Linked DNA regions of Homo sapiens: region 1 is reported to be linked to region 2. The links are microRNA targets in miRTarBase. Many come from high-throughput screens and were not tested one by one. Region 2 holds a microRNA gene; the other region holds the end of a gene's coding sequence.

Region 1 (4,337 bases), not on the chromosome of region 2:
AGAACAATCCTGGACAGTCACCACATCCCCCTTCCCCCTGCAACCTCTCCTAAACAGAGAACAGAGAGGTGGAGACATACAGATCTTTCACTGGACACCTGGACACAAGAACAGCAAGGATGGCTAAAAAAACAATTCTCCTACTACCACACCCCCAGACCCATCCAGGGACATACAGACGAACACATAGATGAACAGAAAGCCATACCTATGCAGGAACCCGCCGACCGCCCCGCGACAGACATAGGCGCCTGCGCGCCCTCTCCGGGACACACCCAGACCACAGCACAAGGCGCACCAATTTCAGCCGCTGCTTGCTGGGGCTGGGGCTCCGCAAGACACTGGAGGCGCGTGAAGTCCCATGAACCAGCTCCTAGGGCCTCTGCGGGGCATTCTTCGGGCCCAGAAGTAAACGCAGAGCGAGGAAACTTGCGGCAAGCGTCTGCGGTCTTCGCGTTTCATTGCAGACTTCGGGGATAAAATTGCTGCTGCGCCCACGCGCAACTGCACTGGATAGGGAACGGAGGGAGGAGATAGGACAGACGACCACCCCTCCACCCACGTGGAGAAGGCCTCAGACTTCGGGTTCTGAGAGCCAGCACCCTAAATCTGGGTGCGGGTGTACTGGTAGGACCACAGAGTTGGCCTAGTATAGGCGCCTAACTAGGAGTTATTCTGAAGTTTCGGAGAGTAAGAACTTCCTGTCCCCAGGGCCGGGGTGCGTGGGGGAGGGTGGCTACTAAAGGGCAGGCTAGTCTCGGCCTTCGCCGTGGTTCAGCTGCCGCCAAGGGGGTCTCGGCAAAGGAGTTGGAGGTGGCAGCGGGAGTGTAGTTGGGAGGATCATTGAAGGGGCTTTTGGGGATCGACCAATGGAGGGGAGGCCCATCTCAGAGACAGGGAGAGACAAACTTGGAGCCATGGGGAGTGACATACAAAATTTTATTCTTTATTTATTATTATTATTTATTTCTTATGTGCACAAAAGAAAAAGAATCAAAACGAACCGACGCACTGAAAGTGGCCGAGGAGACCAGAACCGTCCGGGGACATTTAGCAGGTTAGGCCTGGGCCTGGGTCCGGGGTCTCTGCCCGGCCAGCCCCACAGGACTGGGATGGGCCGGACCTCGGCGCCCTCGCCGCCCTCGCCGCCCCGTTCGGGCCACTGGAGCCTGGCTGGGCGCCGGGTTCCCTTAAACGATTCTCTTTTCTCTTTTTCCTTCTCAAATAAAAAGGGCTCGCAGGGGAGAGAGATCTGGGCGAGGACTCCAAGCCTTTTCGGATTTGTTCAAGGATTTTTATTTATTTTCACTTTATTGACTTTGTTTCTGTTATTTCGAGTCGTCACGATCCACGGGTGAGGAGACATGCAGGGCGCATCGCCACTACCGAAAGAGCAACTACGGGGCGGGACGGGGCGGCCCGGCCTTCGGCCGCCCGGGGCGCGCGGGGCACGCCCGCGAGGGGGCGAGCCCGGGGGCTGGAGCTGCCACCTCGGATCTAGCCTGCGGAGACAGGGCGGCCGGGCCAGGTCTGGGGAGAGAGGCCGAGGAAAGAGCAGAGACAGACAGACAAGAGCGACAGAGACGGAGAGAGACAGAGACAGAGGGGGAGAGAAGCGGAGAGGAGAGAGGGGCAGAGGGAGAGAGGGGCAGGGAGGAAAAAGCGAAAACACGGAATTACAGAGAAAGAGCCAACAAAACAGGCCAGAGGAGTCCACAGGACCATGTTCGTCATTTTGCATAGAGATTTCTTTTCTTTCGTAATTTTTTTTTGTAACATAAAAAATGCCCCCCTCCCCCAGGACGTGCTGTGCTTTAATGGGCGTGTAGCTGTGTCCCCCCCTTCCCCCCCAGCGAGCGGCGACTCTCACAGCACAGACAGCGGGGCGTATCTACAGGCAGGGCCGGCGGGCGACAGGGACTCTACGGGGCCGGGCGGGGCGGGGCGGAGGGGGAGGGGTTATGTACACCGGGTTTCGCCTTCACACGACACACACCGTCTTTCCACAAAGCAGCAGCCTGGTGGGCTTTTGTGTTGTTTTGTTCCTTTTTGCAAAGACCATCATATTAAATAAATGTAGACTTTTTGTGGTTCTGTTCAGTTCCTGCCGGAGGAGGAGGCTGGGAGGGGATGGGAGGAGTGGAGTGGGCAGCCCCCCACTTCCACCCCGCAGCAGCTCAGACGCCAGCTCAGAACCGGTTCTTACCACCGGCAGATTGAGAGTCTGTGTCGGGGGAGGGGGCATCAAGTAACTGCTGGAGGAAGACCCCAGTCCGCAGTCTATGGAAACTGGTCCTGCGGCGGTCCCGGGAGAGCGTCCGATGGGGCTGCGAGTCAGGGAGGAGGATGCAGGGCGTCAAGGGACAGGCGAAGGACTGGCAGGAGGGGAAACTGGGAGGCCAGCAGGTGGAAGAGACGCTGAGGTAGGGGCAAGGCAGGGCTGAGAGCCGGGTCTCGCAGCAGGAGGTGCCGGGCCCTGGGGAACTAGGCAGGCCAGGAGGAGCAGTGAAGAGCCGAGAGTCCGGCTCGATCGGTGCGGGCTGCTGGGCCCCCCGATCCTTGGGTCCCAACCTTGGAAAGACCTGACGCCCCCAAAGCCCGTTCCTAGAGCCGGACCCCCACACCCCCATTCCATCTTCTGGGACAGGGCACACCCGGAAGGCGAGGGCAGTCCGGCTGGCACTGGGGGAAAAGAATTTTTCCCAGGGATTCGGCAGCGGGCTCTTCCTCCTGCAGAAAGTCGTTTTCTTCTTAATCTCCTTGGCCCAGCCCCTCCAGCGAAGCCTCCTGGCGCCCGAGCGTCCGAGGCGGGTGCCCGGGGCTGGGCCGCGCTGCGGTCCGCGCTGATTGTGTGTCACAGAAACATCCGGCGCGCGCCAGCAGGTCGCGCCCGAGTCCGGCAGGGTGGCTGGCGGGCTTCGGGGCTGGCTTGGTGGAGGCCGGGACGAGCTGGGCCGAATCCCCCTCACGGCGCCGCGCAGTCCAGGCAGGCGGGGAGGGGCGGCAGGCGGGGCTGGGGGCGGCGGGCCCGGGCCTGAGGGTCCCGCCCACGGCTCCACCCGTCCTGTCCGACCTTCGAGGGGGGTGATGTGAAGGGTTGCGGGGGTCGTGGGATGGGGTGAGGCTGGGGCGGTGGCCGGGAGGCATCGCGTCGCGTCGGTCCTCCCTCCCTCCGGGGTGGGGTCAGACGGGGACGATGTGGAGGCCGAAGCTGTCGGCCTGAAGCTTGATGTGGTCCCCGCGGTAACTAGTGGCGGTCATAGGCAGCGGCAGCAGCGGCAGGGGCGGAGCCCCGGGGGGCGGCACTATAATAATAAGGGGAACCTGGAAGTTAACACAGGAGAAGAATGGGCTGGGTGAGAGGACAAACAGGAGAACAAAAAAGGAAAGAAAAGCACAGAAAAGACCTCCCCTGGCTGGGGTCCAGCGGGATCCGGACTGGGAGACCTTGGCTGGGCAGTGGAGCCAGTTGCCCCGGAGAATAGTTGCGTTCACGGGGCATGAGAGGGACCCGATCTGGTGACGCCCGGCTGCGCACCCTCCAGGGGATCCGAGGGCGAGGGCGGCGCAGAGCCTTCGAGCGACCAGGGAGGGCACGGGAGGGCAGGAGGTGCGGGCGTCCTCGAGGGGTCCCCGGGCCTCAGTGCTGCACTAACAAGCCTGTCCCCCTGGCCCGGCCGGGTCCCCAGAGGTCGGGTCGCCGGGAGTGGGACCGTGCCCAGAAGCCGCGCGGCCGCGCTGAGCCGCCGGCCAGCCAGGTGGCGTACTCACTTAGTAAGGCGGGGTTGCTGAATCTCCAAGCCTCGTTGTAGGCCGTGTACTGGGGGTGGCTGTACGGGTTGCCGGAGAACTCGCTCCCTGCGGGAGGGTCGGGGAGTGGGGATCAGACGCCTGCAAGCCAGGGCGGACCCCACGAGTCCGGCCGGTGGCTTCTCCGCCCGCTCCTCCCGCCGGGTCTCAGGCGCAGGTGTCGCGGGCAGGGTAATGGCCGTGGCGGGCGGGCCGGGCGGAGGTGGGGCGATCACCGCGTCCGCGTGGAGAGAGCCCGGGGAGGCGGGAGGCACCGACGCGCTCGCACACCCACGGGCGGGACCTGTGGGCCGGTGCCCGCCCAGGGCTTCCCAGCGGAGGCGCTCGCGGCCACCCACGAAGGGTTTGTATTGGGGCGCGTCCACCCTGTCGCGCTGGGGGCCAGGGCCTTTATAGATGCCACTCCGGTTCTAGGAGGCATGGCCCCTAATGGGTGGAAATGGGAGTGGGGGGCGGTGGCGAAGAAAGGCCTTCGGGACATTTTTCTCCCAGAAAGTCCTAAGAATGGCATCAATGTGCAGTGCCAA
Region 2 (4,356 bases):
TTGTATGTCAAACACAGCAATGAGATATTAACAGCTTTAAAACTTGTTGAAATCGGTTCATAATATAAAAACATTTAAGCACGAAGTGGTTGATTTTAAGTTACTTTTCTGAGGCATTAGACAGTTCGAAGTCATTTTGGGTACATTTTATCATGTCCTCAAATAAGGCAGGCATATTAATTGTTGCACACACTTTAAAAAAGGATGAAAACTATTAAATTTATGTTCTCATCTATTAGAAACAATCTTTACTAGGTAATTAAACTTTTCAAGTAATTAAAATATAATGTGAAATTTTAAGATTTTAATCTAAAAGTCAGCAAAACCTTAACATCTCCTGTATTTCACAGTGTTGGCCACATCTTAGCTGGATTAAAATAATTGTTCAAACTGTAGGGCTAAACCCTACAGAGGAAGCGGAGTGCTAAAAATTATACCATTGGACTGAGAGAAGAAATTCTTTCACACCAAGTCCTTCTCTTCTTGTTAAAGCAGAAAACTAAAAGGATAATTTTAGCCCCACTTAGCCTTTCAGAAGAAAAAGGCTGCAGAGCACAAAGGTTTCGTTTCCTGATGACAATAAAAAAATTCTCTCCCTAGAAGGGCCTAACTCCAGGAAAGCTCAGAATAGATCATTCTGGAAAGGATTAACAACAACCTTTCTCCACAGAGAGATTTAAAAAGCAAAACTTAAGTGTGTTATATCTAAATTACAATGCCACACAGTACACATTATGTGTTTAAAAAGTAAAGTCAATCCCAGTGATAACAGTTGGAAATTCCATTGAAAATGGGACCTTCACACCTACACTTAAAAGAGCTGCCCATCATTGTTTTGGTTTTAACAGTCTCTTCTGAAATCAGAGACTTGTGTAAACTCTCACAATTAGCTGGCAAAAGGATTTTCAGCAGTAATGCGGATTCAGTACTTTATAGATTTTTATGCAGAGTTGTTTTTTTTTCTGGTCCCGAAATGAAAACAGGGAGAGAACAATTTGCATTCCCCAAACTACATGGTACATCATGGCATTCAGGTTCTGAATTTGAAATCGGCTTTGGAGTGTGTGTGGAACTTCCTTAAAAAAAAAAAAAAAGAGGTGGGTAATAAGATGCCCTCAGGGAAAAACCTAGTGAAAATGGAAATCTGAAGTCTGGAATAGAAGTTTGCTCCAGTTGAGAGCGGGGAAAGATGGACATGATTAAGGAGGGGGAAGCAGCAGCGGCTCCGCTACGGCGGGCGCTAGGACCGCGCCGACGCCGCCGGACCCGCAGCGCCCGCGCGGTCTCCTTCAGGGCAATTAGAGCTTCGCCGGCCGAGCCAGGCAGGGCGCTGTCAGCCTTAATGTGAGCGCTGACTGGCAGCGCTCAGCCCGCGCTCAGCCCGCAGGAAGCACGACCAGTGAACCCATATTGCTTTGACAGTTGCACTCATCTAGAAATAATGCAAAACGCTATTTAGATGTATATATCACGACCCTGGGCTCTGGGAAGAAAACAATCTAATGAGGGGCTGGGAGTCCGCTCGACACAAGCAGTGAGGAGGCGTGCGGGTGGGTGCGCCAGGGCGGCCTCCCCCGTCGCGCTCGCTCCTCTTACAGCTCTTCGTGCTTGATGCGGTGGGAGCGGCGCGTCACAGCCGGCTTCAGGGAGCTGGTCTTGGCCTCTGAGGCTTCGGTAAAGAATTTGAAAATAGACGGAAAGCTCTTCCAGGAAGTTAGCTCGTGACGGTCGGTGCCTGCAAAGAACAACACATTCGGTTACCAGGTGGCCACGCGGGGCCAGGCGCGGTGAGGGCGGCGAGGGCCAGGCCGAGCCCCGGCTCCCGACCACCCGGTCCCGCCCCTCCCCGCCCCTCCCGCCTGCGCCCCGCCTCAGCCGCCCGCGCCCCGCCCCTCAGCCAGGACCCCCGCCCCCTCGCGGGCGCGGGCCAGCCGACTCCCAGGGCACAACTAGGGCTGCGGGGTCACTTGCCCCCTGGCTCAGAGGAACTCAGACTTCGCTATCCGCGGCGTCTAGGCGTCTCCGGCCTCAGTCCCCATCCCTCTCCCAACGCGGGGACGCGGCCCGGATCTGTCCCGGGGTCGTCCGAGGCGCGGCTGGCCGCCCGAGGCCTCCGCCTCTCCGGGCCAATGGAAGCGCTGGGCGGGAAGGGCCACTCCCTCTCCCTCCGGGAAACCACCCACTCCCGAGACTCGGCGCGCGCGGGGATTGGTTTCCCCTGCGTGCGGGATCGCACAGCGCCTGTTTCCTTGCTTCCCAAGGGGGTGGTGTGGAGGGGAAGGGGGAATGATTTTTCTTGCGTCTCCCGGAAGCTGTGCTGTTAGACACAATTACCTCAGCTAGGTCACTGAGACCAAATCATACGGGACGCTTAATGAAGGACCGCATTCAAAAGGGATTACGCCTTGAAGTGTCCTGGCGGGCGACATTTTTACAGATTTTAAGGGGCAAATTTAGAACAGCTAAAAAAAAGGTTTCAAAGCCGTGACTACTAAAAGAGCATCTAGGCCTCCCATTTTATCAGGAGGAATTCAACTTAGAAAATGCAGGTTAGTTGTCAATTTATGGGGTTACTTTATTTTACTACGGCTTCTCTCTGTGGTTTCGATGTAATACTAATGTACAGCATGTTTTCAAATCAAATCGACCTTCAGTTTAACACAGGCAGCGGATAACACGGATGCAAGCATAAGAACAGATGAGGAAATACATTTAGCTATTTTTGACTCCCTGTGATGGCTTATGTAGCATTTTACCAGTGGCTTCATAAATGAGCACTTTTTAAAATTAAAAATTAAAATAATTACAGACTTCCACAGAAATAATGAGTGAATAGCTTTTAAACAGTTGAAATCTCTTCCTAGATCACTCAATTATGCAGAGAGATACCGCTTGGAAGTCTCCGGATTCAGGGCCTCAGTCTGATACTTTAACATTGTTAATGATAATTCTTTAGTCTGTAATAGTAGGTCATTGCTATGGTTACTCTACAATGGTGCAACACTTTGCTTTCCCCTTCAGCTATTCGCTGAGACCTGGTAACCACATTTGTTGCCTAGCAACAGTTTTGTGACAGTATCACAATCTAGGAGTTACAACAATAAGGATGCTATGGCTGCTGTCGGCCAGAGAGCAGAAAGCTACAGTCTGTGCCTGACTTAGCTGTGGGAGCTGGCCCTACTAGAGAACCCCTCTCTCTTTATCAGTGCCCTCCCAAGGATTCTCTCTATCCTCCTTTCCTCTGCAGACTGGCCTCATGAACTTGAATTTGAAACTAAGACCCAGTATTAAAGTCATATCCCCCAACTCAGACTAAAAATGAGGTCATTTTATTTGCTTACTCATTTTGGGCAAAATTCATTGTTACTCAATAGGAAGGAGGGATGAGTGTAGGTTTATCTTGTTAAATCCTAAAGTGCTAGGTGGATTTTGACAATTCTTCATAGAATTCTTGGGGGAAAATTATATATATATGCCTGCTTGCATCAATAGGTGTTATAATACATAACATCTAGATATTATTATATTTTTACTGATTTATTCAAATGACAATCTTAAAGGATTCTTTTGAATTTGGAGGCATTTATATTTTCCAAACCTAACTGAGCAGTTCTACATATGCTCAGACATACCTGCTTTAAATGATATTTGCGGGTAGATCTAGGAGGACCAGTTTCTGGATAGGGTTATCAAATGTGTGTCTCTATTCTATAGTGTTTGCAACCCTAGTTTCACTTCAGTAATAACTACACAGTTGCACTTATAATGGTAGGACATTTTAAAATCAATTGTAATTCATTTTGAAAGACCATTCTCAGATGCATACTACGTGGCAACACCCACCCCCAAATACAATAAGCCAAAAAAAAAAAAAAAGGTGTTAATTGTCTCTTTTCGTAACCATTTCCCAAGCTTACAGCCACATTTGGCATTTCCTCCATAGTGATCACACTTACACCTACTAGTGTTACTAAGGCTATGATCAATTTGTAAGCTTTCTCAGGGAATTCCCCTCATAATTCCTCCCACCCCTTGAAACCAATTCAATCTATGAATCTAGAGGGACCTAAGGAGTCAACGGTCTGAAGCAATTTTAACTCCTTTATTTCTTCTTTACGGGTAACAATCCTTCTGAAGGATGAACAGATTTCCCTGGTGATAAAATCACTACAAAAGCTTTTTAGTTTTAGCTTTTGATGACTCTCTGCTTGATTAGTCCTGGACTGAAAAGACCAGAGTCCCTGAGATAACTGAATACTTGTACTGGCTCTCAACATTTACTCTTGTAATTTAAGAGTATAAATAATGAGAATGTGTGCTTCTGTCAGACGAAGGGAAATTGCTAGGAGTAAAGGT

Evidence for each region. Region 2 holds the annotated microRNA hsa-miR-2277-5p (AGCGCGGGCUGAGCGCUGCCAGUC, at 1,354-1,377, opposite strand). A microRNA usually pairs through its seed, bases 2 to 8, with sites in the 3' UTR of a target mRNA and lowers its output. Matches are read on the target gene's strand: a 7mer-m8 pairs with bases 2 to 8, a 7mer-A1 pairs with bases 2 to 7 and ends in A, and an 8mer does both.
Region 1: the mRNA of PAX2 is a reported target of hsa-miR-2277-5p. Seed matches in the 3' UTR shown: 7mer-m8 at 1,442-1,448.

What each region holds. Positions count from the first base shown.
Region 1 is chr10:100,826,530-100,830,866 of GRCh38, reverse strand. It overlaps PAX2 (paired box 2), which reads right to left. Exons shown (of 10, transcript NM_000278.5): 9 at 3,772-3,858; 10 at 923-3,324. The coding sequence ends at 3,248. Among named protein-coding and RNA genes, the nearest start is that of PAX2, 83 kb to the right of the region's middle.
Region 2 is chr5:93,619,395-93,623,750 of GRCh38, forward strand. It overlaps MIR2277 (microRNA 2277), which reads right to left and starts at 1,394; the gene lies at 1,302-1,394. ARB2A (ARB2 cotranscriptional regulator A) reads right to left here. Exons shown (of 11, transcript NM_032042.6): 11 at 1-1,735. The coding sequence ends at 1,593. It overlaps LOC124901028 (a long non-coding RNA gene), which reads left to right and starts at 2,288. Exons shown (of 3, transcript XR_007058874.1): 1 at 2,288-2,549. RefSeq lists a silencer at 1,903-1,952.